Homo sapiens: one gene and its partner. The protein of the gene in region 2 purifies or fractionates together with the protein of the main gene of each other region. This does not show direct contact. Each region holds a gene or a part of one and is shown on either strand. Other genes may lie near its edges.

What was found.
Region 1: the proteins of ABLIM3 (region 2) and TARBP1 purify together in Homo sapiens (affinity purification with mass spectrometry; one large-scale study listed by BioGRID and IntAct). This does not show direct contact.

Annotation. Positions count from the first base shown.
Region 1 is NC_000001.11:234,458,680-234,462,179, forward strand, and holds part of TARBP1 (tRNA (guanosine(18)-2'-O)-methyltransferase TARBP1), read right to left. Parts: intron 1,718-3,500; coding exon 1,582-1,717; intron 648-1,581; coding exon 551-647; intron 1-550.
Region 2 is NC_000005.10:149,147,993-149,151,492, reverse strand, and holds part of ABLIM3 (actin-binding LIM protein 3), read right to left. Parts: intron 1-3,500. UniProt on the Homo sapiens protein: May act as scaffold protein. May stimulate ABRA activity and ABRA-dependent SRF transcriptional activity.

The sequences.
Region 1 (3,500 bases), on a different chromosome or scaffold from region 2:
ACACACCATATATATTCCTTGAATGTCGATACAGGGGAAGATGAGGGGAAATGTAGAGAGGGAACAAGGCATACGCTCCAAGAGTCCTCTCCCAGTGGGCCACCCAGGACACACTTAGCTCCCCCAGCAACAAGCTGTGACAACACAGTGAAAGTCTGTCTACCAGGGAAGCTCAATGGAGACTCAGTGCCTCGGGCTTTTCCTGGGACGTGGTCATGCAGGCACCTTTTGCCTCATACATACTGAAATTCCAGACTCTCAGAAAGAAAGCAGGTTTTCAGCATAAACCACATTGAACAAACACTTTAGATACAATAAGCCACTCTTAGCAGTTAGGATAGTGTAAATCCTCCCAAAATCCAAGGTCCCAGTGCCAGCCAAGGACTATTTAGAGAGATCATATGTATTATTTTATTACAAGCACATTTATTATTTTATTACAAGCAGGCCTTTCTAATGGCAGTATCACAGGTCTGCTATGTTAACTCATTTCTGTACACCCACTCACTAAGAAAGACTTGTAAATGGAAGTAACAAAAGAAAAACTTACCACATCTAGCAAATTCATAGCTGTTTGAAGAAGGTAGCATTGGGCTGCCCCTCTCAGGAGAATCTGATGTGTGATCATAGTGCAATGAATAACATCCCTGACATCGAAACACAAAAAATGCAGTTCCGTATTCCCAAAGACAATTCTGATAATTTGTGATTATCAACAAGTTGATTTATAACAACTACACTTCCTAATGCAGAAAGTCTGCAGAATTTCAAAGCTGTTATTTCCCATTATGGCCTCTATTAAGAGCTCAATTTTACTATGAAACAAGTCTCTTTTAAAAATAAGACTATAGGCCGGGCGCAGTGGCTCACACCTCTAATCCCACAACTTTGAGAGATTGAGGCGGGTAGGTCACCTGAGGTCAGGAGTTTGAGACCAGCCTGGCCAACATGGTGCAATCCCGTCTCTACTAAAAATACAAAAATCAGTCGAGAGTAATGGCGCACACCTTTAATCCCAGCTACTTAGGAGGCTAAGACACGAGAATCGCTTGAATCCAGAAGGCAGAGGTTGCAGTGAGCCGAGATCGCACCACTGCACTCCAGCCTGGGTGACAGAGCGAGACTCCAGCTCAAAAAAAAAAAACTATAAATGAAGATGCTTTTAAAGAAGTTTATATTTACTGAAATACTTTTTCTTTTTTTCATCTCCTCAAAATTCCTTTTTACCAAATATTTTTTAAATACTTTCTGTTAAATATTATTGTTTGATATTTTATCTTTAGCTTTCTACTTACGAATGTAATTTTAAAAAAAACTTACTGGCCTTATTTAAAGAGGTCAAAATTCAACAGCACATACTTCAGTACACATTTAAACTAGTAATTTGTAAAACAAAATAAGTTCAACTATACGAATAATACATTTTTTAATTTTTTTCTTATGTAAAATTAAGAGCCCAAACATCCCAATCCCAATATTAACTATATCCATTTACTGTAGATTAAAGCAGAGGAGAAAATATATATATTGATGGAAAGTCATGGCAAATAACCATACAAGTACATATACAGAGTAAATTACCTGAGAGCAAGAAGCCCATCTATACCCAGGGCCTTATGTCTTGGGACATTTGCCAAAGCCTTAGATAGAAACAAAATGGGAACAGCACACCAATGCCTACTTGTCATCTTCCGAATAAACTTCAATAGGAAGCTACCTGAAAGAAAAAGTTTTAAATTATCATTGTTGCCAATTAGCACATGAAAAGAAGCTCAATACCATTAGGTATTAGGGAAATACAAGTCAAAACCATAGTAAGGCTCCACTTCCCACACACTATGATGGCTATAATCTAAAGGACAGACAATACTCAGAGTTGGGGAGGATGTGGAGAACCCAGAACCCTCACACAATGCTGGTGGGAATGTAAAACGGTGCAGCCGCTGTGGAAAAAAATATGGCAGTTCCTCCAAAACTTAGACGGACCACATGATCCGGTAATTCTACTTCCAGGTATATATCCAAGAGAATCAAAGATGTGTTCATACAGAAACTTGTACATGAACATTCATAACAGCATTACTCAAATAGTCAAAAGTGAAAACAATCCAAATGCCTACCAATGAATGAATGAACAAAATGTGAAATATCTATACAGTGAAATACTATTCAGCCACAAAAAGGAATGAAATGCTGATACGTGCCATAACAAGGATAAACCTTGAAAATACTATGCTAGTGAAAGAAGCCAGACACAAAAAGCCACGTATTGTATGATTCCACTGACATGAAATGTTGAGAATATGCAAATCTATAGAGACAAAGAGGATCAGTGGCTGCCAGGAGCTATGGGTAGAAGAGAATGAGAAGCGACTATTAACACACCTGAGGTTTCTTTTTGAGGGTGATCAAAATATTCAGGAATTAGACAGTGGTAACAGCTGTACAACTTTGTGAATACACTAAACACCACTAAACCAAATGGTTTAAAAGGGTGAATTCTATCTCAATAAAGCTGTTGTAAAAAAAAGTTAATTTAATTCCTAGTTTAGTAAGATAAGTATTCTACTGTACTATAGGGATTCTGATACCCATGAAGCTGTATTTTTTTAAAAGGTAATTTTTTGTTTGTTTGTTTGTTTTGAGACAGAGTCTCACTCTGTTGCCCAGGCTGAAGTGCAGTGGCTTGATCTTGGCTTACTACTACAACCTCCACCTCCTGGGTTCAAGTGATTCTCCTGCCTCAGCCTCCTGAGTAGCTGGGATTACAGGCATGTGCCACCACACCCGGCTAATTTTTGTATTTTTAGTAGAGACGGGGTTTGGCCATGTTGGCTGGCTGGTCTCAAACTCCCAACCTCAGGTGATCTGCCCACCTCAGCCTCCCAAAGTGCTGAGACTACAGGCGTCAGCCACCACACCCGGCCAGTAAAAGATAAAATTGTTTATGATTAGAAGCCATTCTTCTATTTGAGATGTGAAGGAAAAACAGGATAGGAAGTATTGATGGTTAGTGGCCTCTAGTATATGCAAACAGTAACATCTTTCTCATAGGCTGTTTCTTGACTACCTTGGATTTAATTACGATTATTTATATTTCTATTTTGAGATACAAAGGGATAGTGCTTCATTCTGTCCTCTCTGCTAATCTGTGATTTCTTAAGGACCCTCATCTCATGTAGTTAGTGAAAATGTCTGTTTTCTCACATAGTTGTAGAATGACTTTCAAGAAATCCTCAGAAGCTACTAAAAGGATATTACGCGGACTTTGTGTCTTTTGAAATACCTAGCACAAAAGACATTCAGAACACCCAGAAGATATTCACTGGAAACTGGTGACTGAAAAATGACTAAATAACTGTGAATGAATGTTTTAATTGCTCTTTTTGAACTCCTGGCCTCAATTTTTCTTTCTTCCATTTGCACTAACTAAATTCAGTAAATCCCATCTTTTGCCTAACGCTTCACTCATGACACTAGGAAGATGGCAATGGCCAAGT
Region 2 (3,500 bases):
CTGACATTCAGGGGAAACCAAAACACAAGAAAATCTCCTTGAGGAGTCATTTCCTTAACAAACACTCTATTATGGATTGAATTGTGTCCCCACAAACTCATATTTGAGGCCCTACCCCTCAGTACCTCAGAATATAACCGTATTTGGCAATAGAGTCTTTACAGGGATAAACAAGTTAAAATGAAATCATTAGATGGGTCCTAATCCAATGTGACGGGTGTCCCTGTGGAAGGGGGAATCTGGACACAGAGAAACACATGGATAAAGGTGATGTGAAAAGACTCAGGGAGAAAGGCAGCCATCTCCAAGCAAAGGAGAGGCCTCGAGTAGACATTTGTCTCGCAGCTTTCAGAAGGAACCCTGCTAACACCTTCGTTTTGGACTTTTAGCCACCAGAGCTATAAAACAATACATTTCTGTTGTTTAAACCACCCGGTTTGTAGCACTTTGGTGCAGTAGCCCTAGCAAACTAATATATACTATTTATTTCAGAAACCTTTGTTATGTGCCATGCACTGTTTTAAGGAATTCACAACTAACTTATTTATTCTTTATATCTCTTCTCTGACAGAGGCACTATTATTTGCCTCCTTGTAATTATCATTAGAGATGAGGAAGTGAGGCACAGAGAAGGTAAGTGACTTGCCTAAGGATACACAGAAAGTACAAGCAGGGCTAGAATTTGAGTCCAGCAACCTAACTTCAGTCTGTGCCCTTAAGAACTGCAAAGGAAGAATTTATCTGGCAAAATACCCAGAAAGTCGAAGGTGTTCAGATACTTCTGGTTGTTTTCTGTACTTTTACAATGGTTTCTGCCTAAAGTTGGGTAATAGCCAGTTGTTGACCGTTCACCACAGCAGATGCTATCTCAGCAAGATAAAGCTTTTGCCAGATAGGAAAGCTGGAGTTCAGAATTGATATCACTTCCTTTACGCAATCCAAGTGCTCTTGAAATCACGTTGTGATTTTTCTGAGATGTGTTATAGTCATTTTGGGTGATTTTAAAATTGTTCCTTACGTTATTCCTCTAACCCCTTCTTAGCCTCAGGTAATCATCTGTCAACAACTGCTTCATTCATTTGGGAAGTACTGTTTTAAAACAATCTCTATCCTTGTGGAGTAAATAATCACTTCTACTTTATCTGTTTTGCAGATGTAGAATTTCTAGAGAGGGCATCCTACTGCGTTCTTGTGTGTCAGGATCCTGTCTTCAGGGATCCTTAGATTTCTTGATCTGGGCAATGGCATTAGCAGAGGAAGGTCATCATGCCCCGTGTGCTGGGTGTCTTCTATTCTGAACTCCCTCACCTCTCCAGATCCGTTCTGCCTGCTTCCCTACTCTGGACTGTGCCCTGGGAAGCTGCTGACCATTATGAACCTATCAAATGCCTTCCTTGCCCTCTGGCTCCTGATTGGATTTGACCAATGGGAGGTACCCATAGGAGATCTGAGGGAGAGAGAAGAGGAGGATCAGGATATTTATCCTCCTAGTTCTTTCCTTGGAACTAGGCTGGCTGCCTTCCTGGGGCCACAGCCACAGTTCCTGTCAGGCAGCCTTCACCCCATAGCCAGCTGGGTCTCTGGGTCCAGCTAGGGGCAGTTGTGGTAGCAGTGGGTCATGAGCCACAGTTACTAGGCTCCTGGTACTGGGTCATGCTTGCTTCTCTTTGTTTGTTTCTTAATGTCCTTCTCACACACTTGTGAAGAGTCCTTCCATTTAACTCCTCTCAAACTGCCAATCTGTTCTCTGCCAAGACCCTACCTAATAGAATCCTCCTTTTCCTCTTTGCCTTATAAAACAATCAGTGGCTAGGCCATGCAGTCTTTATTTTCTAAAAGATTTTTCCCCTTATTTCTAGTTTTATAACCATCCAAATTTTGGCCCGAGACGTTTTCTGAACTAGGACAATTGGGATCCTAACTTCCTGTCTTCCCTTTTTCAACCCATGCCATATACAATGCCAGGTTAATAAGCTTCCTGTAGGCTTCCCGGGAGCTATGAGTTTCCTATGTAGAAAATCCATCACCTACTGTAATACCAGAAGAACAGACTAATTTTTAATCAGAGGATTTAGTTTTAATGACACCATCTTTCCAGAACTTTGCTTTACTCAACAGTCAACTCAACTTCAGACTCAACTCCATTCACTGAGACCCAATGCCTGTGAGTTTCTAATGTTATTTCGCTGAATCCTTAGAAGAACCCTGCACCTTGGCATTTATTGCTCATATTTTATACATGGTAAAATTTAGCTCAGAGACATGATCTATTCTGTCCAAGACCACAGAGAGAGTACATGATAGATCTTGAGTTTGAACTCGAGAATCCATACCCCAAAGCTCAGGTTCTTGCTGTCCCAGCATGGTCTCTACTTATCCCATGACATCTTTGTGGGAGTTATTTGACCCTTCAATACTCTCTTCAACAGAACAAAGTCTACTCTAAAAAAGTAATTTGTTAGCATACAAATCCATGGTAAAGACCAACAAAGGGGCTAGAGGCAGGAGGAAGCCTATAAAATGAGTAGGAGCAGTATGTGGTACCATTGATCTTGGTGCACTTGATGCTCTGGAGGGTGAGGAGGCCAGCCTTGGTGAAGTGTGAAGTGTGGGGCTGGGCAGAGGGGCTGGTGCTAGTGGGGAAAGGGCTTTCTCGGCAGAAGGAACCATGCATGTAAAGTCAGCAGGAGCAAACCCTTAGAGGGAATGGGAGAAGGCACATGTGACAAGGACACTGAGAACTGTGCACTGTAGACAAGATGGGGCTGGTCAGCAAGGCCAGGAGCAGGCCACATCGGGCCTTACAGGCTTGCTGAGGAGTTTCCTTTCTCACCCTGGGAGCATGGGAGCCTCACTTTAAGCAGAGTGTGATACAGAGTAGGGATGCGGCCGATCGCTGAAGGGGGCTGGCATGGATGAAAGGAGGCCAGTTAGAGGCTGCCTCAGTAGGTCAGGAGACAAATGAGAGATCCTTGGAATAGGTTGAGAGTTCATGAGAGAAAGAAAGGCTGGATGTTGGATCTACCCTACAGAAGACAAAGTGGCAATGATTGGCCAGTTTCCCTCCTTTCCTCTGAAGTCCTTCAGCGAAGCGAGTGTACTGACTCAGTATGAGCCCAGGCCTTTCCAAGCCTGGGGTGTCCTGCTCACATGTTTGGTGTCTATTTTCTCCTGAATAAGGACCAGACCCCACCTGCTGTGCTCTACCTAGGTCTGCCCACCACCTCACTCCAGCATCTCCAAAATTACCCCTTTCTTAATATTCAGCTAGATTTCAGAAGAAAGGATTCTAATGAAACTAAAATTCACTCTGAAGAGCCACTGACTAAGCATGCTCTTGTTTTTGTAATCTAAGCATTTTTTTATTAGTAAAAACAATTTACAAATGTTTATAAAACATCTCCTCATAATCCCATTTAATCCTTAAAAAATCACACTTCAGGTGTGCTTCTCAATTCATGAGAAGGATGTGACTGAAGTCTGAGAGGTTGCGTGACCTG